6 linked regions of the Homo sapiens genome follow. The protein of the gene in region 1 purifies or fractionates together with the protein of each later gene. This does not show direct contact. Each region holds a gene or a part of one and is shown on either strand. Other genes may lie near its edges. The genes, in order: DEFB107A, CACNA2D2, LEPR, ITGA4, SPIN1 and SUSD1.

Region 1 (4,054 bases):
ACACACACGCACACACATACACACACACACACACACATATATATATATATACATGTATAGGGTGTTCAATACTGAATCAGGGCAGAGAACAAAAAAATAAGTAGAAGAACAAATGACCAACAATGGTAAACTCTAACATAGCATAGAGTATGTGCCTGCCACTGCTCAAGCAGTTATACAGAGAGATTGTTAAACTGTCCCAAAGCAGTCATTTTTACCTTCAGACTTTTAGTCATAGAACCTCTGGGTTTAGCTGGACACATGAATACTTAGCTATTCACATCAGCTCCTAGCTTCCTATTTCTATATGTCCACATGAACAAATTTGGAAAAATGAAAAAGGAGTGGAATGATGTGAGCTGCTTCTATGTAATCTTAATCAGGTTCTATACTTTCTAACCCTGCCTGTTAGAATATCCTTGGAACCAAATAAAATGGTCAACTGTTTAGGATGGCAGGGTTGACCTTCAGCCCAAATCACAACATAACTTGGTGAAAAAGAACCCTCTACCCGCACCTAGTCAACTTAGCTATTTTTGGACTTTTACATGAAAGAGAAATAAGGTTTTGTCTTTCTTCAGTCATTCTATCATTAAGATTCTTTATTATAACAAGTTAGTTTCTAATTAATATAACAAGTTTATTCATCTTCAAAACAATGCTATTATTATTATCATTTATAGAATGGAAAGTAAAACACAGGGTGCATACAGCTTATAAAGATTAGCACTGAGATCCAAACTCATATAAGTTTGGCCTAATAACCTATGTTTATTACCTTTTATATTGATCATTAAATTCACTTCTAACTCTGAGATTCTATGTGATTATGGTGATGGTGGTGGTTCTAATTTGTGCCCAAACTATGCTTATTATTGTAATTCAAATACATCTGAGATGAGTTTTGTGGACAGGGAGCTATTAGGCATCCACATCTATAGACTGATCTGAATAAATTGGAGTACTGATTAAAGTGGATGGAGAAGACAATTTTAAATGAGTTTATCTATTCTGGAGCATTGTCTGACATCTGCAAAAAGATGCTGAGGGCAGAAAATCGGGAACTGATTTTACAACTGACACTTTCATGGAGTCACTGAAACTTTCATGGGGACATTGTTCCCTGGCTCTGTTCTTTAGTTCTAGTCTTGCCTATTTCCAAATGTGCAAAACAAATACTACTTCCCAGGAAGCCTTTCTGCATTTCCTAGTTAGAACCAAGTTTCCACATCTATGACTTCTCTTTATAATTTGCATCTTTTATGGCACTTGTGAAAACTGTTTCATATTAAAGTTATTTGTGAATTTTCCTGTCTCATTGATACTTACTTATACATGTTAAATGTATTGAAAGCTTATTTACCACTACAAGCAACCTATTTTCGAACAACACAGAAGGAATAGACTAATAACTTCAAGCAAATTAAGGTCAATGTCCATGCTTTATATTTTTACCTCTTCGTTTTACCTACCTTTATCATAGTGGACAGAACAATTTCTTACAAGTGGTTAGCACACATTCAATATCTATTGGTTTTCTAGGACTACTGAGGACAGAATGTGTAATAAAGGAATGTAGAAATTCAGGAGCCATGAAGGAACAGACAGGGGGCTTCATGATGCATGGAGAACCTCTAATAGGAAAAGCTTCACAACAGAAGGAACGAAGGATAGTTGAGGAGGTATGGACATAAACATTTCTTAGGAACAGAGTCGTGGTTGTATGAAGCAAAGAGAATCTCAAAGACGCAAAGACTTAAGAGAATAGTAAGCAAGATGTTAGTTTAGTGGTTTTAATGGCATAATTTCCAACCAGTGTGTGAAAGCCAAAAAGTCTAAAATAATGTATGGATAAGAGATTTGGACCGACGACTCAGACATGAAAAAAAATTAGCTGTCTAAGAATCTAGTAACATAACTTTAGTTTAATTTAGACTACAAAGGCTGTACTTCCCTAACTTAACAAATATGTTTGGCATTTCCTTGGATAATCTTTTCTTTCTTTTTTTTTTTTTTTTTCATTTTAAAGAAATCACTTTAGAATATGCTGGCCAGGCGCGGTGGCTCATGCCTGTAATCCCAGGGCTCTGGGAGGCCGAGGAGGGCGGATCACGAAGTCAGGACATCAAGACCATCCTGGCTAACACAGTGAAACCCCGTCTCTACTAAAAATACAAAAAAATTACCCAGGCGTGGTGGCGGGTGCGTGTAGTCCCAGCTACTCGGGAGGCTGAGGCAGGAGAATGGCATGAACCTGGGAGGCAGAGCTTGCAGTGAGCCGAGATCGCACCACTGCACTCCAGCCTGGGCGACAGCGCGAGACTCCGTCTCAAAAAAAAAAAAAAAAAAAAAAAAGAATATGCTGAACCTGCGTTGCAGATTACAAAGGAGGAAAGAGATCTAAAAGTACAAAGATGTCTGAATTCCTTGGCAGAGCTGTTAGGGAAGTTGACTAGAAACTATTATGGATGGAGATGGTCCCGGTCAATGTGGTCCCATTGTTTTGTGTCGGAGCTCAGGAAAAGATTTTCAGTGACTGGTTTGCCTTGGAACCTTCAACTTTGTAAAAGTTGAGCTTTCATCTCAAAAGACAGATCCTGAGCAGACTGTCATCTCTACTTCTAGAAGAATTTCCCTCTTACCTTGGAAAATTTGAGCAAGAAGAATGAGAGCAGCCAAAATAAAGACAAATATTTTCATGGCTCCAGGCATCAGTGGAGAGCTGATGAAGGAAGTGCAGTAGCTGGAATCAAGCTCTTTTATCAAGGGGCATTGATTAAAATATGTTCTACTGCCCTGAAGGGACTGGAAGTCATCCTCGGTTTGTAATGTTCATTGGGAACATACTATTTTCCATGCTCCACTGATTAATGTGTGGGCTGATGGATCAGATTTTAACTAAACCACATTTGTGGGAGACAAACGCAGAGAACCCTGCCTTTCTGCCTGGAATATTCTATTCTGTGTCTCTGCTTAGACTTCTCTCATTTTTCCTTCAAGTCTTATCTCAAGTATTACCATGTCTATAAGATATATAGCCACCACGCTTTTCCTAGTACATGATTTTACATAAAACCTATTCTTAAAATAATAATTAAAACAAACACACAAAAACCTTTAATTTTAAATTCAGGAGTACGTGTGCAGGTTTTTTTTTTTTTTTTTTTTGACAGGGTCTCGCTGTATTGCATGGAGTGCTGTTGCTTAAGGAGAAAAGGGTTAATCCATTGAAAATACATAAAAACCATTAACATGTTTTTATATTATTTGATTTAATTAAAGGGAGAAATAGACACTTCTATATTCATAGTAGAAAATTTTTACACCACTCTCTCAGCAACTGATAGAACACAGGGAAAAATTAGCAAAGTCATGCATGATCTGAACAATACCACCATTCCACTGACTGCATTGATATTTATAGAACACATCATAAGACAACTGCAAAATACACATTTTTTTCAAGTACATATGATACATTCATAAAAATGAACCATATGCTAGGCCATAAAACAAATATTGATGTGTTTAAGCACATTTAAATACTTCAGAGTGTATTTCTCACCACAAGGGGATTAAATTGGCAATCTATAAAATAAGCTATTTAGGATATTTTCAAATATGTGGAGATAAAGCAACATCATTCTAGATTGTGTTTGTATCAAAGAATAAATAATGAGAATAATTGGAAAGCATTTCTGTATATCGAATTTTGTGGAGCACAACAAAACAATGACTTCGAAAGAAATTTGTATCCAAATACTTATTGTAGAAAAGAAGAAATGTTTAAATCTATGACTTAAAATTATGCTCTAAGAACCTTAGAAAAGGGAACAATGTAAGCCCAAGTATGCAGAATAAGTGAAAAAGAAGTTATCACTACAGATCCAAGAAACATTAAACTAATATAAAAATGTTGTCAACAGGTATATGCCAAAACATTTCACAACTTACATAAAATAAAAGAATTCTCTCAAAAATTTAACTTACCAAAATTGGCACAAGAATTAGCAGAAAATATAAGTATTTCTGTATGTCTTAAAGAAAGTAAGTG
Region 2 (3,500 bases), on another chromosome or scaffold:
GCACCCTCACACTGGAAGAGACAAGGCCCAGCGGCCACAGCTAAAGCAGGGCGTGGAGAGGAGCAGGAAGACCCCAGATCTGTCTTCTTAGGGCATTGGAATGTCAGAGTTGGAAGGATCCTGGAAGAAAGGAAACTGAGGCCCAGGGGGAGGAGGGGTTTTGTCCAAGGTCACCAAGCAAGCTACCCAACTGAGAAGATTAGGCTGGGCTTGCCCTTGACAGAGGCCTCCTCACCTAAGATGGGGGCTTTCAGAACTCCTTTGTGAATATTCTCCCCACCTAATCCCAGCTAGACAGTCTCCTGGTTTGTGAGGCTCTCCCCTCACCAGGCTCAGTCACGGGTAACAGTGATGGCTGGGGACCCAGCAGGTCCAGACCAGATGCAGAAGGAAAAGCACTGTGAGGGCCCAGGTGAGAGGAGCGGGACCAGGACCGGGGACACCAAGCCAACAGCCTGAGTCTCACAGTGGCAGGGCAGGGCTTGGCTGAGTCTGCCCCTTAGGTCCTGACCTTATGTAGATTTGAATGACAGAATCTTGACTCCTTTAGGGAGGCCCCAAGAGACCCCTGTGGGGACCTGCAAGCCAGCAGGGCCATCTCAATCTCTGTGGTCACCTGCACTGGCCCCCCTTCTGCCCTTAGCCACAGGCAGCTCTGGAAGCTCTTCAGGTTCCACAGGACAAGAGAAGAAGGGAAGCAAAAAAAAGCAAAAACCACACACACACTTCCCTTGGGGAATACGAATATTGATTCTGTAGCTTCTTGTTTAGACAGTAGGCACCAGAAGAAGAAGAAAAGAAAAAAAAACCTGACATGAAGAGAATCTTCCCAGTTGGCTGGAGGGCTGTAGCCAGCAATGGGAAAGCCCCTCATGTCCTCCCCAGCATGTCCTCCCCAGGCCTGAGGCCCACAGCCCAGTCACTTAAAGACACAAGGCACCAGGTCTGGAGGCAAATCTCCGCACGGGAGTGGGGTAGGTGGCTGGAAGGGGGAAGAGAGAGAAAGACCACTCCTATCTTACAGGCAACATCGCCCTGCCAGACAGAGCTCAGCCCACCTGCCTTGACTCCCAAACCTCCAGCTGCCCCTTGGAGAGTTCCCTAGCAACAAGCCCTTGAACGCTGGTTCCCAAACCCCCCAAGTCCCACCCATCCGGATGGCATGAGGCTCCCCCAGCATCTATAAGATCCTAGCCCTGTGAAGTCCCCTCAGACCTGGCAAAACTGCCAAGGGACTAAAGGAGCCAGCCTCAGGTTTCCATGAACAACCCCCAGCCCCACCCCCACCTCCATGACCTTTCTCTCCGGAATCAGACTGGAATCTGGAGAAGGAAATGGCATCTCATCTCCAGATGAAGCCCCTCCTCTCCTCCACCCCTCCACACAGAGCAGGCCTGGCCCATAACTCAAAGCTGGGGGAAGGAAAGCTCTGGGCTGGGGGTGCTCCATGATGGCCTGTGTATACGTGGGAGGTAGATGGAGGTCAGCACTGGGGCTATAAGCACTGGGGCTGGCAAGGCAGCTTCATGCCAAGGAAGGCCCCTCAGGGTTGCCTGAGACCCAGAGGAGGAAAGAGAGACAGACAGGGCAAAGTTACAGCTGGAAGTCCCAGGCCCAGCTCTCATATCCTAGGCCTCTTCATTTTCTTCCCAGAGATTCAGGCTTCAAGCCCCCCTCCACTTCCTGGGCCCACTGCCCAGATGTCCCCAGCCCTCTGGCTGGGCAGCCAAGTGTCTGACAGATCTATCCTTTCCCCTGCCCTGCCTCTCATGGTTGTGGGCTTTAAGCAGGTCCCTTCATTTTTCTGAGGTCAGTCTCCCCATCTGGAGGATGGACATGACCACGGGCTCTGAGGTCAAGGCACTAATGTGGGTGAGGGGTCTGGCCTGGGCTCAGTAAGGGAGATCACCATTAGCCTGGAGACGTCCCCCACCACAGTCAAGCTGTGTTGCAGGGAGTGAGGGAGGGAGGTGGCCCAATGTCTTCCTCAAGGAGGTAGAATCTGATGTGGGTGGGCACAGCCTGAGAGAGTGGCACAGCCCAGAGCTGGGATGGGAAGGCCTCTGGAAGGTTCGGGTGTGAGACCTTGAAGGAGGGGATCTAAACCTGAGAAAAGAGCACAGTCATGGCAGGGCAGCATGAGCAAAGTAGAGAGACAGGCGGCCACCTAGCCCGTGGGAGCCCTGGAGACTGGTGGGTCTCGCAGTAAGACTGGCTACCGCCCGGCTGCAACATCTGGGCTTAATGCTAATGTTAACAGTGGCAGCCATGGCACCTGACGGAGCCCTCCCTGCCCACTAGAGGCGGCATCCTCTCCCGTTAATTCTCACCACCAGCCTCTTAAGCAGATTCTATCATTTCAATTGTGGAAACTAAGGCAAGGTCATCCCAATGGAGCCTGCAAAGTCTACACCTGACACCCAGCATGTCCCCAAACTACATCCTCCCAGGAGCTGGCAGTGTCCACCCATACACATCTGAGATGCCAGGAGCTGGCAGTGCCCACCTGCACACAGGCAGGAGGAGAAGGGGATACTTTCTGCAGAAGTCCACTTAGAGGCCAGCTTTACTCTGGAGTCAGTCTCTCCATGGGGACATGAGTGTGACAAAGAATCTGGAGTGAGATTCACCTGCAGACTACGAGGGGACTCATCCTAAAATGAGTTTCCTCCTTTCTCAGGGGTTAACCTGGCACAGCTGACCAAAAGGAGGTGCCTGATAAAGATGGAGTCCAGGGGAACAGCAGCCAAGGGTCCCCCCAAAGTCCTCCACACCAGGAGGGCTGTGAGCACCTGGCAGCTCTGCATCTCGGTGACAGCAGCAGCGGCTGGGAAGCCTCATCCCTCCCTCCTGCAAAAGCTGAGGCAGGTTTTTGGGAAGATGGGGGACCCAGATGAGTGATGCTGCCTCCCTCCAACAGGGAGAGCCACAGGGAGATGGAGACAGGGGCTGGAAGGCCCAGACAGACACACGTCACCCACCATTAACCGTAGCTACACTGACGCATGCCCTGTTGTAGGCACTGCTCCCCATGTGTCCACTCAGGAGAGGAGCACGTACTCTGGTTGTCATTAATCTGCTGGTGGTCCAAACCCCTCAGGCCCCTCACTGCTTCTGCCCACCCTCAGAGGAAGGGAGACGCTGGCCAACACCATCGCTGGAGCAGAGCTGGGCTAAGAGGGTGCAGTCAGGTGGGCCAGCTCAGCCGGGTGCTCCACCCAGCACTCAGCCAGGACTCCACAGAGGAGGGGACAGAGAAACCTGGGGGCACTGGAGAACAGGGCACAGAGGCCCAGCAGAGAGGACAAAAGAGGCGGGCAGGGAAGGATAGGTACAGCTCGATGAAAGACCTGAAGAAGGGGGACAGGGGAAGAGGGAGGGAAAGACACAAGGGGAGGCAAAGCAGTGAGGGCTGCCCCTCAGCCGGCGGTGGTGGCCTGATGCTGGGGAGGGCATAACTGGAAAAAGGAGGCAGGTGAAAGGTGTGCTCGGACTCAGGT
Region 3 (3,500 bases), on another chromosome or scaffold:
ACAAATTACAATTTTTTAATCTCAGGTGTGAATATTTTTCAAGAATCACCAATTTATATAATCCCTCAAAAATTTCCTGATTCATTATATTATACTTTCCTCTTTCAGGAAGCAAATAATCTGTAAGACTACTGTTGTAATATTTCTAAAGAAAATTTTTATCTCACTGTGCCCACAGAAAAACAAAACAGCAAAAATAATACGTACCTATGATACCTCAATTGCAAAGTGCTTTCCGCAAGTGACTGGATTGTACTGGTTGACCATCTGCAAGTCATTTTAGTTAAGTACCCATCAGTTTCACATGAGATATTGATATTGACATCTATTTGAAACATATTAAAATATTAATATAAAGCAAAAACTCCAAAAAATTCAATGAAAAAAATTTTTTCTTACATCTTTAACAGGACTCTAATATAAGGAGGGTCCATAATGAAAATTCAAGTTGTGGAACAAAATGAACAAAACCTCTGTTTTCTTACCAATCACATATAATTCAGCATAGCGATGATGGCATTCATGTTCATTGCAGCAGTACACTGCATCATAGGTAAACTTTCCTCGAGGTTTGGTTTCATTCAGATTGAAAAAAGTAACTTTGCTAACATGATCACTCACAACATCATACTGGCTTTGAGGAATTTTCTCAGCTAAATTCATCCACCAAACAATCTCTTTTGAGGGAACAATCTTGTTTTCCTTCTTATAGATGCAGTGAAAAGAAACATTAGACCCAACACTTGTCAGAATTTTAGGTGGAAAGTATATGACATCTGTAATGAGGGAAGAAAGGATATCAGATGAAGACAAAACATTCTGTAAGTAATTTGTACCACATCGAAAAATATTCACAACACATTCCAGAGTTACACTGCCAAAAATAAAATGAGTGTAATTTAAAAACTGGATAATGCTGAAATTACCTGTTTGTGTACAGTTATCTAGTGTCCCGAGTGCTCTCATTCTAAAGTGAGTTGAGCTTCCATGAATGTCTTTACTATCTTCTAAACACAGAGGCTTATTCATCATAAAATATGTTTTAGCCAGTAATTGTCACTTGCTAACTGATAGGCAGGAAAGTGACTAAAACAAAATATAGCTTAATTCAACAATGACATATTTTCCAACAGACCCTGCTTTGGGAATCAGTGAAACTAGGACAAGTTCTTAAAGCAAATCACTATGAAGCCAAATCCTGAAGTAAAAATGATTGCCGCTATTGTCTTGTTTGGATACATAAAAATTTCAAGTAAGTAGGTAAAGATACGAGATATAAATTAAAAAATAGGAATGTCGTATGAATGATAATGCAGCAATATACAAAGCAGAGAAAATGGGAAATACTGGTTTGTACTATCATTTTGAGTTATTTAATGCCAATATCCTATGGATGAGGGTAAAGGGAAGCGATATTTTCCTAAAACATGATTTTTTTAATGCCTACACATGATTCTATACTATTTTTAAAGTCCTCTGTTGTTGTAAATTTCATTTGCCTATCATTTTCAAAGACATGCGAGATACAAGTAAATGATGGTTTACATAGGAAGAAATTATTTCCACCACAGTGCACTGCAAAAACGTCAGTACATTTCAGTTGTAAAGTTAAGGTAAACCATTTTCTGTTGATAGACTATGAAAATTTGTTTTCACACATATCTTGGGATTACCCTTAAAAACAGAAACAAAAATACTTTAATTGGTTTTTATTAAGTTTTCTTTATTCTGTAATAGCATGGTAAACGTCAATGTCTATATATTTACAATTCATACAAAACATTTGTGTTTTGTATGTCCATAATCAAATAGAAACAGGAAAAAACTTAGTAGCATAAAATTACTGCACAGGAGCCAGACCATTAGATTTATGAGCGTGACTGAGTATAATCCTAGCCGAGGTGGCACTCAAGCTTCACTTGTACATTACTTACTGTGGACAAGTACCTAGTACATTAACCTATCTTAACCTACCTTCAGTATGCGCCACAACCTCCTTACTCAACTGCCTCAAAAGTCTCAGAATAATTCTTATTTAAAAATAAAAAATATAATTGAGTTTTCATGGATTAAGCTGAAGTTTTTCATTTTAAAGATGACAAGAAAATTCAAAGCATTTCACTTTGAAATCAAATACATATAGTAAGGCTTAACTGAGAAATAAGATTAAAGTCATAGTATTTTTACATGATTAGATGCTAAAATATTAGCTTAAAATAAGAAAACTAAGTTAATAAAAACCTGACAATTTGTGAAATTTACACTGGATAAATTTATTGAAATTGATATGAGATATTGAATATTTAATTTGCAAAATTTTAATAATATAGATACACATTTTATCTGCATATGACATACTATGCAATTTTTAATTTGCAGAATAAGAAAACAATAATGGTTTTCTTCACATGACCAATGTTAATTATTTCATTTCATTATTTAATTTTATATGGATATTTCATATCCATGTAAAACATCCCTATTTTACAGATAAGGAAATTAAGGCATAGAAAGGTTAAGAAACTTTCCAAATAAGTGGTGGAGCCAGAACTCCTATAAACTTCTGTTGGACTCCGAAGTCAATGTCTTAAACTACTATTGCTACTTGCCTTTTGACGAATCAATGCTTTTAAAATAGTAAGCAATCAACAAGTAAACTTGTTAAATGGATTGATATTTGCATGGTACCTGTTATCTCTGTACAGGCCATAATCAATCTCAGTAAGTCTGAACAAGAAAAATTTTGCCCTTTTGACAGATCGGACAACCAGCCAAAGGACTATTGTCTTTCTATAGTCCCAACTTTGCATGCAACAGGTCTAGGACCATTCCAAGCCTCTGGAGCCTCTATGCAAAACTTTGCGCATCAGCTGCATGAAGAAGCTGTGAATGAACTGTAGATGTTCCGATGCTAAAAATAACCTTTAAAATATGAACATTGGCACTGAAAACTCTCAAAAGCAAGCATCTGGAGTAAAAATAATTCATTTATTATATAATATAAAGTAAAATGTTAATATTTGAATTTTATGTCAAATAAATATGCTTGGTTTTAAAATGTAAATTAAGGAATTATCAATACAAATGGCTTTCTGAGTTTGTTAATTTGGAGCTGTTATATTAATTTTTTCTTTTTAATAGGAAAAGTGATCCTACAATATACTGCAATAGAAACACACAAGCCTAGAGGCTCTGACAGAATTTTAATTCACAAATTGGCCTGTTCAAAGTTTAAACAAGGAAGTTGATACTGTGTTCCTCCTTTCATTTTAAGGCCTCAAAATGTAAGATGCTTATACTATACAAAGGCAAGTTCAGGAAATATATTTCCCTCCCAGTAGAAGTGGCTATTACATAACCTACCTTGTGTGGTAAAGACACGAGGAGTACTCCAGTCACTCCAGATTCCTGGGCCATCCAGTCTCTTGCCCCTCACCTGAACCTCATACGAAGACCCAGGAAGTATACTGTCTACTAGCAGGGATGTAGCTGAGACAATC
Region 4 (3,500 bases), on another chromosome or scaffold:
GATCTCTTTATGTGGTACTGATTTCATTTCCTTTGGATATATACCCAGAAGAGGGATTGCTGGACCATATGGTAGTTTTATTTTTAATTTGAGTAACTTCTCTACTGTTTTCTATAATGGCTGTACCAATTTACATTCCAGCCAACAGTGTGCAAGGGTTCCCTTTTCTTCACACCTTCGCCAACACTTGTTATCTCTTGCCTTTTTGATAATGACAATTCTAATAGGTGTGAAGTGATATTTCATAGTGGTTTGTAATTTGCATTTCCTTGATGATTGGTGATGTTAAGCACCTTTTCATCTACTTATTGGCCATTTTGATGCCTTCTTTGGAAAGAAAGCCATTTGGTCTCTTGACTAATTTTTAATCAGTTATTTGGTTTTTTGCTATCGAGTTGGTGAGATCCTTATACATTTTAAATATATAGGACTTATGCGAATATTATTTCCCATTCTGCAGACTGTCTCTTCACTCTGTTGATTATCTCCCTTGCTATGCAGGAGCTTTCTAATATAGTCTCATTTGTTTATTTTTGCTTTTGTTGTTTGAGCTTTTGGTGTAATTTCCAAAAACTCATTGCCTAGACTAATGTCAAGTAGCTTTTCTCTTATGTTTTCCACTAGAAATTTTATGGTTTCAGGTATCGTGTTTAAGTCTTTAATCCATTTTAGTTGACTTTGGTATATTTGCTAAGATAAGCGTTCAATTTCATTCTTTTGCACGCAGATAGCCAATTTTCCCAAAGGCATTTAAAAAAAAACTTTCAGGTTCAGGGTTCATGTGCAAGTTTGTTGCATAGATAAATTGCGTGTTGTAGGGGTTTGATGTACAGATTATTTCCCCATGCAGGTAATAGGCATAGTACCTGATAGGTAGTTTTTCAATCCTCTCTCTGCTCCCACCGTCTACCACCAGGTAGGCCCTAGTGTTTGTGCCTACTTTGTGTCCCTTGTGTCCATATGTACTCAATGTTTAGCTCCCACTTATAAGTGAGAACATGTGGTATTTGGTTTTCTGTTCCTGTGTTAGTTCGCTTAGGTTATTGGCCTCCAGCTCCATATAAGTTGCTGCAAAGGACATAATCTCGTTATTTTTTATGCCTGTGTAGTATTCTACAGTGTGTATGTATCACAGTTTCTTTATCCAATCCAACATTGATGTGCATTTAGGTTGATTCCATGTCTTTGCTATTGCTAACACCATTAATTGAAGAGAGTGTCCTTTCTTAGATTTTGCCCAACTGAAATATAGACTGAATCAAGATCTGCATGGACATAAAGGTCTATTATTACAAAGTCCCATGAATGAATGCTTTTGGAACTTTCTAAGGGGGCAAAGCTTTGCTTCTTCCAAAAAATGATATAAGTAAACTTCTATGAAAATAAGAATTGGAACCACAGCTTCCTTTTGGCTTTGCTAAGCAGAAAACTTCAATAAATTGGTAAGTCATTTATAATGACCATTTCTGGTCAGGAGTTTTCATCCCTTTAAAAAAATATATCTTACCTGATCCTGTATTTTACAATTGTAGATGGGTTAGGTTTATGGCATCTTGAGATTTTTGTAGTATGTGGCTATGTATATCCGAGAAAAACTAAAAACTCTACTATGAAAATATTTTAAAGATAAACCGAAAACTATTAGGAAAAAGAAGACAGCAAACATACAGAAATCAAGACTGAGTTTTATTGCAACTGAGAATCAATATTCACTTTTTTATCTTTTGGGTATCCGAAGGCAAAATAGGAATATATGTAATATAAGCTGCTCTGTGACATCACATTCCAAGGAAGAAAGACCAAAGTCTTATTAGCACCCATAATTGAACTCAAATACTTGGCCAAAGTTTTGCCAACCAATAAAATTTTTCTTTGCGTGCTGAGGGATTTTTTTTGAGTGAGGGTGGTTAGAAAATTATGAATTTGCATTCATATGTTTCTTAGCTCCTAAAGACGCATTGTTGGATTTTAGTTTTGCTGCAGATATCCTCTGACATGCTCTGTTGACATTCACCCCAATTCTGCTCACTTCTGTTATGTCCTAGCTCTGTACTTGCTGATGCTACCTATAGCATAGAGTTACCATGAGAAAAATGTTTCAAACTCAAGACACGAATCTCTTGCTGCTTGAAGGAAAACATGTAAATTAGAAAAAGAGATAGTGAGTGCGAATGAAAGATTTGCTTACACTGATTATTCTTCCCAATTACTCCTGGAAGCTAAAGGTAAAAAAGGAAACCTAAAGTCTTTCTTTTTAATCAGACTTCCAATATAATTTCACAATTTAAATGTCCTATATTTGCTGGGTACTAGTCTCACCTATACCAAATTGAAAGTAAATTTGATGCAAAAGTGGGTAGTTAAAGAGCTAGATTTCAGAGTTATTCAAATTGTAGAATTTTTATAGCACAAAGTGCATTTATGAAAAATAATGCTATTGCAATTGGGTAAAGAAAGAAATTGAGTAGTTAAAAAGAACATAATTACTTAGAAGATCTCCCTCTCCTCTGAACATCTAAACTTGAACATAAATTTAAAACACTAAAAGGTATTCACTTACTTATCTTTATCTAATTCGTATCAAAATCATGCCTTACCTTGATAACACGGAGCTATTCTTTTACTCAGTTCTGTTCGTAAATCAGGGGGCACTCCATAGCAACCACCAGTGGGGAGCTTATTTTCATTCTTTATGTAAAATATATTTTTCCATCTATGCCCACAAGTCTGAATAAAATAAAAGTAGACCAAATGATGTGAAAGCTGCACCCAGGATAGCTGATTTCACGATGGATCTGTGGACCAGTTCCAATACCTACCACGATGGATCCATTTTCTCCTGGCTGTCTGGAAAGTGTGACCCCCAACCACTGATTGTCTCTCTCTTCCAAACAAGTCTTTCCACAAGGTTCTCCATTAGGGCTACCTATAGCATGTGAAAATAATTTTATCAGTTGTATTGAAAACATTCTACAAAAGAAGAGAAAACTGTGCACTCATCCCCAGTATTTTTCTGTTAACTACTTCTCTATCTTATATTCAGTGCACAATGTGAGGATAAATGTGAATTACTCTGTGCCAACTAATTATTCTCTAATACAAGGTGACTTTGGTTGTAGAAATGACCTCTGACTGGTAGCACCATAAAAAGATAGACTCAATCATATAAGAGATAGCTAACAGGACTAGGAGTGGGGAAAACCACTTAAAGCTAATACCAGGTTGTGCAACTATAACTGCTGTGTCTAACGTTTGGAAAAGAATTAGCCATTTATCTAACAACGTAAGCAATATTATCAGAGCACTTTTAAAAATGTTTCTTCTACTGAGATATTAAGAATAGAAAGACTATAATACATCCTCAGCAATTAAGGTACAATTTATTGGAGCTGGAAGGTGATGATTAAGCATGCAGAAAGTGGAACATACAATTAGCATACCAATAATGCCTTGCGTTTATAAGAAACTGCCCTATGTTTACATTTATTGGAATATGACTC
Region 5 (3,500 bases), on another chromosome or scaffold:
ATTCAGACACTGAGCTAGATACCAGAAAAGTAATTACAGGCAAAAACAGGAATGGTTCTGCTTTCATGAAACTCAGCCTTTGTGGGAAAACTAAAATTAATTAAATCACATAAACTAATATAACATTGTAATTCTGATAAGCACCAAGAGGACTTGACTGCAGAAAAGTCAAAAAAATTCAAGAACTTCAGACAGCCAGGCACGGTGACTCATGCCTGTAGTGCAGTGGCACAGGTGGGAGGCTGAGGCAGCACTTTGGGAGGCTGAGGCAGGTACACTGCTTGAGTTCAGGAGCTCGAGACCAGCCTGGGCAACAAGGCAAAATCCCGTCTCTACTAAAAATACAAAAATAAACTAGCCAGGCATGGTGGCACATGCCTGTAGTCTCAGCTACGCGGGAGGCTGAGATGGGAAGATCACCTGAGTCCGGGAAGGTCGAGGCTGCAATGAGCCAAAACTGTGCCACTGCACTACAGCCTAGGCAACTGGAGTGAGACCTCGTCTCAAAAAAACAACTTCAGGCTGGGCACGGTGGCTCACACCTGTAATCTCAGCACTTTGGGAGGCAGAGGAGGGCAGATCACTTGAGGTCAGGAGATGGCGACCAGTCTGGCCAACAAGGTGAAACCCTGTCTCTACTAAAAATACAAAAAAATTAGCCAGGCATGGTGGCACGCACCTGTACTCCCAGCTACTTGGGAGACTGAGGAGTGAGAATTGCTAGAACCTGGGAAGTGGAGACTGCAGTGAGCTGAGACCGCACCACTGCACTCCAGCCTGGGAGACAGAGCAAGACTGGGGAAAAAAAAAAAAACACTTCAGACAACTGATGCTTGTTGGAGTCGGTGATGAATATCAGTACAGTCCAATCTCTTTATCTTATGAAAATGTGCAAGCACGCACACAGAAAATTTCATTAAAAGTGATGCTTGAGCCAAACTCTAAAGACCAGGAATAACTGTTAACAAAGAAAGGCATTCCAGGCAGAGGAAAAGAACAAGTGCCAAGATTCCTGGTGGAGAATATGGTGAGCACAGGAGAATGAAGGAGGCCCCACACAACTGGAGCAAAGGAAAGCAAGGGGAAAAACAGTACAAGATGAGGCTGAGGCCCAAAAGTAATTAGTCATGCACCACCTAATGACATTTCTGTCAACACAACAGACCACATATACTACAGTGGATCCATATTATGAGGCTGTTTTAAGCTACGTGTTATTTAAAAAGACAGAAAGTTTAAAAAAAAGTTAAAAAGCTTATTAAGTTAAAAAAATTACAGTAAGCTAAGGTAAATTACTGAAGAAACTTTTTATAAATTTAGTGTAGCCTAACTGTAGTGTTTACATACAGTCTACGGTAGTGTACAGTAATGTTCTAGGCCTTCACATTCACTCACCACTCACTCACAGACTCAACCCAGAGCAACTTCCAGTCCTGACAGCTCCATTCATGGTTCAGTGCCCTACACAGGCATGCCATTTCTCTTTTATACCACATTTCTACTGTACTTTCTCTGTCCTTAGATATGTTTAGATAAATAAATACCTACACAGCACTGTGTTCCAATAGTCTACAGTATTCAGTTCAGTCATATGCTGTACAGGTTTGTAGCCTAGGAGCATTAAGCCATATTACATAGCCTAGGTGCCTAGTAGGTTGTCCCATATAGGTTTGTGTAAGTATACTCTATGAGGTACACAACGAGGTTCTCTGAATGTATCCCATTGTTAAGGGATGTAAAGCTATATGTACACCAACTATATGTGTACCCTTGAGGCTACATTATAAACTTTTGTCCTTAAGGCACTGGAAAGCCATTTAGAGTTTTTCTGTTTTGTTTTCTGAGACGGAGTCTCACTCTGTTGCCCAGTCTGGAGTGCAGGGGTGTGATCTCAGCTCACTGCAGCCTCCGCCTCCCAGGTTCAAGCAATTCTCCTGCCTCAGCCTCCTGAGTAGCTGGGATTACAGGCATGCGCCACCACACCTGGCTAATTTTTGTATTTTTAGTAGAGACGGGGTTTCACCATGTTGGCCAGGCTGGCCTCAAACTCCCAGCTTCAGGTAATCCGCCCACCTCAGCCTCCCAAAGTGCTGGGAGTACAGTACAGGTGTGAGCCACCGCACCCACCTGGCCACCATTTAGAGTTTTAAGTAAAAAGCTGACATGGTCAGATCTGCCTTTTAAAAATGTAATTTTTTTTTTTTTGAGATGGAGTCTCACTCTGTCACCCAGGCTGAAGTGCAATGGCGCGATCTCAGCTCACTGCAACCTCCACCTCCCAAGTTCAAGTGACTCTCATGAGGAGTAGCTGGGATTACAGGCGCAGGCCACCATGCCTGGCCAATTTTTGTATTCTTAGTAGAGACGGGTTTTTTTGTTGTTGTTGCTGTTGTTTTTGAGACGGAGTCTCCCTCTGTCACCCAGGCTGGAGTGCAGTGGCGCAATCTCAGCTCACTGCAGTCTCTGCCTCCCAGGTTCAAGTGATTCTCTTGCCTCAGCCTCCCGAGTAGCTGGGATTACAGGCACGCGCCACCACGCCAGGCTAATTTTTGTATTTTTAGCAGAGATGGGGTTTCACCACGTTGGTCAGGCTGTTCTTGAACTCCTGACCTCATGATCGGCCCACCTCAGCCTCCCAAAGTGCTGGGATTACAGGTGTGAGCCATCACACTGAGCCTGAAAATGTAATTTTTTTAGGCTGTATTGATGCCTGACGCCTGTAATCCCAAGTTTTTTGGGAAGCCCAGGTAAAAGAACTGCTTGGGGTCAGGAGTTCAAGATCATCCTGGGCAACACTGTGAGACCTCATCTCTACAAAAAATTAAAAAGTTTTAAAAAGAAAATGTAACATTTTGACACTAACAAAACTACAAATGTGTTTACCTTTCACCCCACATCTATCTTAAAGCTGTATCTGCACAAATAAAAAACAATATACCCACAAGGTTATTCATTGCCGCAATATTTATAACAGCCAAGAGAATATAAACAACCCAAATGTTCATCATTAGGAGATGAGTTGCAAGCACGCACTTCAATGAAGCGCTCTCCAGAATAAATTAAGTAAAAGGGAGCAGTGTGCATAGAACGGCAGAGCAGTGTGCATAGAACGCTGCCTATTGTGTAGGAAAGGGAAACAAAAATATACACATATGCTTACATTTGCAAAAATGAAATATCAGAAAAACAAAGCAAAAACAACTGGGGCAAGAGAGAAATTCGTGGAGGAACAGAATTAAAGTGAAGCTGTGAACATAACTTTTTAACACAGATCAGATTTTTTAACTACATAAATGTTCACATAAATGTTCTACATGTTAAAAAATACATTAAATAGGCCAGGCGCGGTGGCTCACGCCTGTAATCCCAGCACTTTGGCAGGCCGAGGCGGACAGATCACGAGGTCAGGAGATCGAGACCATCTTGGCTAACATAGTGAAACCCCGTCTCTACTAAAAATACAAAAATTAGCCGGGCGTGGTGGCGGGCACCTGTAGTCC
Region 6 (3,500 bases), on another chromosome or scaffold:
AGCGGGCAGAGGGAGCAGTTATTAGAGAAGGAAAAAAGAAGCGAAGATCTTTTAAATAACAGTTCTTTGGGAAAATGCAGCAAGCACTCTCCTCTAAATTAATTTTCTACATTCTCAGTCTAATAATCCAGATGATGGCTAATTTTCAAGGCAATCTAAATGGTTTTATATGGGGTTTCCTATGTAAATCCTTAGAGCGTTCTTTGATAGGCACTATGGCACATTTTAATCTAAGTTCTGCATTTTAGTTGATCCATTGAAAGATCATCTTAGAACTAAAATGTTATCTTTAGAAATTCTTAACCCCTGAGGATGATAATTAATGATCAAAATGCGTGTAGAGCCTACACAGCAAGTCAGAATATCAAAATGATTAACTTAGCCATGCACATCACTGGGGTTTCTTAATTATGCAATAAATTCAATGAAAATTGTGAGGGTTTCTCTTTTCTCCAAAATGAAAACAGGTTTCTTTGTCTGATATGTGAAAAATTCCATCATGCTCACTTTGGCAGCATGTATACTAAAATTGGAACGATACAGAGACTAGCATGATCCCTGTGCAAGTATGACATGCAAATGCATTAAGCATTCCATTAAAAAAATTTCTTTCAATACAGAAAGTATATAAAATATAAAAATTGGCTGGGTGCGGTGGCTCATGCCTGTAATCCCAGAACTTTGGGAGGCCAAGGTGGGCGGATCACCTGAGGTCAGGAGTTTGAGACCAGCCTGGCCAACATGGCGAAACCCCATCTCTACTAAAAATACAAAAAATTAGCTGGGCATGGTGGCAGACACCTGTAATCCCAGCTACGTGGGAGGCTGATGCAGGGAGAATGGCTTGAACCCAGGAGGCAGAGGTTGCAGTGAGCTAGATTGTGCCACTGCACTCCAGCCTGGGCAACACAGTGAGACTCCATCTCAAAAAAAAAATGTGTATATATATATATATATATGTGTATATACATATATATATATATGAAGTCCAGGATCCCAAACCCTCCCATTGGAAACTATCACCATTAACATTTTGATGTATGGCATTCTAAACATTTTTCTAAGCTTATCTGTATATAGGAACTTTTTCAAAATTAAGATTATTATTCATAGAATTTGTAACTCTGAAACATACTATTAGTACTTATCTATGTCAATAAATATTCTTTTTTTTTTTTTGAGACGGAGTCTTGCTGTGTCACCCAGGTTGGAGTGCAGTGGCACAATCTCAGCTCACAGCAACCTCCACCTCCCAATTCTCCTGCCTCAGACTCCTGAGTAGCTGGGATTACAGGTGCACGCCACCACGCCCAGGTAATTTGTTGTATTTTTAGTAGAGATAGGGTTTCACCATGCTGGCTAGGCTGGTCTCGAACTCCTGACCTCGTGATCAGCCTGCCTTGGCCTCCCAAAGTGCTGAGATTACAGGTGTGAGCCACTGTGCCTGGCCTGCAATAAATATTCTTTTTTAAATATTGTTTTTCTAACATAATTTTATTGGATACATAATATTCCATTTTAAGGGATTGATTCACTTAACCAATCTCTTGTTGTTAGACATTTGAGATTGTTTCTAATATTTCACTACAATAAATAGTTATAAACAAATATAACCACAGCAAATTAGAAGGCTTTACACTTCTTTGCATGCACAAATAAATTGGAAAATCTGGATGAAGTAAATGATTTTCTAGAAATACATAATTTACCAAAATTGATCTTAAGAGGGAAAGAAAAAGAATGGACATGATTAGATATACCAGCAAGTATAGGAAGAATTTAAAAGTAGTCCAAATAGTCCAAGGGCTACCTCTCCAATAGTGCCACATCCAGATGGTTTTATAGGTGAAATCTCCCAAATCTTTAAAAATTCTATTTGTAGTATTCCAGAAATAGAGAAAGAAGGAAATTTTTACATTCTTTTTTTTAAAATTCAGAATAACATTAATACCGAACTGAACAAAGATGGCACAGGAAAAGAAAATAGAGCAATTTCACTTATGAATATCAATGCAAGATTTATAAGTAAAATTTAGCAAATATAATCCAAATGAAAGGAATAAAACACCAAAAACCCAGATTAATTCATTCCAGCAATTAGTACTGATCATTATCAGGAAATCTAACAATATAACCCACACATTATTATTATTATTTTTTCTTTATGAGATAGGATCTTGCTCTGTCACCCAGGCTGGAGGGCAGGGTGTGATCATGGCTCACTGCAGCCTCAACCTCACAGGCTCAAGTGGTCCTCCCACCTCAGCCTCCCAAGTAGCTGGGACTATAGGCATGCACCACCACTCCCAGGCTGGTCTTGAACTCCTGGGCTCAAGCTATCTGCCTGCCTGGGCCTCCCAGAGTGCTGGAATTACAGACATGAGCCACTGCATCTGGCCACATCGTTATTTAAAAGAAGAAAAAAAATATATAATCACCTGCCTAAAAGACATGATAAAAATAACTTATTTCCAATTAAAAAAAAAAGAAATTCCTAAACAGTGGGAATAGATTGATGTTTCCTTTAGATTATGGACATATAGCCAAAAACTAGAAAAATGGTAATTAAAAAAATTTTTTTTCACTTTTCAGATGGAAACAGGCACATAAAATGATAATATTTGTAGACAGAGAAACAGAAAACCAGGTCAAGTGTGGTGGCTCATGCCTGGAATCCCAGCACTGTGGGAGGCAGAGACAGGCAGATCACTTGAACCCAGGAGTTCAAGACCAGCCTGGGCAACATGGCGAAACCCCATCTCTATAAAAAATACAAAAATTGGGGCCGGGCGCGGTGGCTCACGCCTGTAATCCCAGCACTTTGGGAGGCCGAGGCGGGTGGATCATGAGGTCAGGAGATCGAGACCATCCTGGCTAACAAGGTGAAACCCCGTCTCTACCAAAAATACAAAAAATTAGCCGGGCGCGGTGGCGGGCGCCTGTAGTCCCAGCTACTGGGGAGGCTGAGGCAGGAGAATGGCGTGAACCCGGGAAGCGGAGCTTGCCGTGAGCCGAGATTGCGCCACTGCAGTCCGCAGTCCGGCCTGGGCGACAGAGCGAGACTCCGTCTCCAAAAAAAAAAAAAATACAAAAATTGTCCAGGCATGGTAGTTCGTGCCTGTAGTCCAGTTACTCAGGAGGCTGAGGTGGGAGGATGGCTTGAGCCCAGGAGCACCAGTGCACTCGAGTCTGGGTGGCAGAGCAAGACTCTGTCTCAAAAAAAAAAAGAAAAAAGAAAAGAAAAGAAAGGAAAAAGGAAAAGGAAAAAGAAACAGAAAGCCAAAATTTTTAAAAAACTAACCAAAAGCCAGTGTCACCATAAAAGCAGAAGCAGCAAAACAAAGTGGCTGAAAATAATTCTGAAACTAGAATTCCTGGGTTCAAGTTCAGCTCTGTCTCTAGTTGTGTGACCTTAAACAAATTACAGTCATGCATCATTTAACAATCTGCATACATTTTGAGAAATGCATCATTAGGCAATTCCTTCATTGTGTGAAGTC

Evidence for each region.
Region 2: the proteins of DEFB107A (region 1) and CACNA2D2 purify together in Homo sapiens (affinity purification with mass spectrometry, with the first as the bait; one large-scale study listed by BioGRID). This does not show direct contact.
Region 3: the proteins of DEFB107A (region 1) and LEPR purify together in Homo sapiens (affinity purification with mass spectrometry, with the first as the bait; one large-scale study listed by BioGRID). This does not show direct contact.
Region 4: the proteins of DEFB107A (region 1) and ITGA4 purify together in Homo sapiens (affinity purification with mass spectrometry, with the first as the bait; one large-scale study listed by BioGRID). This does not show direct contact.
Region 5: the proteins of DEFB107A (region 1) and SPIN1 purify together in Homo sapiens (affinity purification with mass spectrometry, with the first as the bait; one large-scale study listed by BioGRID). This does not show direct contact.
Region 6: the proteins of DEFB107A (region 1) and SUSD1 purify together in Homo sapiens (affinity purification with mass spectrometry, with the first as the bait; one large-scale study listed by BioGRID). This does not show direct contact.

Annotation. Positions count from the first base shown.
Region 1 is NC_000008.11:7,812,917-7,816,970, forward strand, and holds the start of DEFB107A (beta-defensin 107 precursor), read right to left. Parts: upstream 2,801-4,054; 5' UTR 2,713-2,800; coding exon 2,643-2,712; intron 1-2,642. UniProt on the Homo sapiens protein: Has antibacterial activity.
Region 2 is NC_000003.12:50,497,135-50,500,634, forward strand, and holds part of CACNA2D2 (voltage-dependent calcium channel subunit alpha-2/delta-2 isoform b precursor), read right to left. Parts: intron 1-3,500. UniProt on the Homo sapiens protein: The alpha-2/delta subunit of voltage-dependent calcium channels regulates calcium current density and activation/inactivation kinetics of the calcium channel.
Region 3 is NC_000001.11:65,598,668-65,602,167, reverse strand, and holds part of LEPR (leptin receptor isoform 1 precursor), read right to left. Parts: coding exon 3,364-3,500; intron 777-3,363; coding exon 486-776; intron 326-485; coding exon 208-325; intron 1-207. UniProt on the Homo sapiens protein: Receptor for hormone LEP/leptin. On ligand binding, mediates LEP central and peripheral effects through the activation of different signaling pathways such as JAK2/STAT3 and MAPK cascade/FOS.
Region 4 is NC_000002.12:181,474,386-181,477,885, reverse strand, and holds part of ITGA4 (integrin alpha-4 isoform 1 preproprotein), read right to left. Parts: intron 2,927-3,500; coding exon 2,820-2,926; intron 2,728-2,819; coding exon 2,598-2,727; intron 2,067-2,597; coding exon of another isoform or gene 2,035-2,066; exon of another isoform or gene 1,666-2,034; intron 1-1,665. UniProt on the Homo sapiens protein: Integrins alpha-4/beta-1 (VLA-4) and alpha-4/beta-7 are receptors for fibronectin. They recognize one or more domains within the alternatively spliced CS-1 and CS-5 regions of fibronectin. They are also receptors for VCAM1.
Region 5 is NC_000009.12:88,394,944-88,398,443, reverse strand, and holds part of SPIN1 (spindlin-1), read right to left. Parts: intron 1-3,500. UniProt on the Homo sapiens protein: Chromatin reader that specifically recognizes and binds histone H3 both trimethylated at 'Lys-4' and 'Lys-9' (H3K4me3K9me3) and is involved in piRNA-mediated retrotransposon silencing during spermatogenesis.
Region 6 is NC_000009.12:112,137,298-112,140,797, forward strand, and holds part of SUSD1 (sushi domain-containing protein 1 isoform 2 precursor), read right to left. Parts: intron 1-3,500.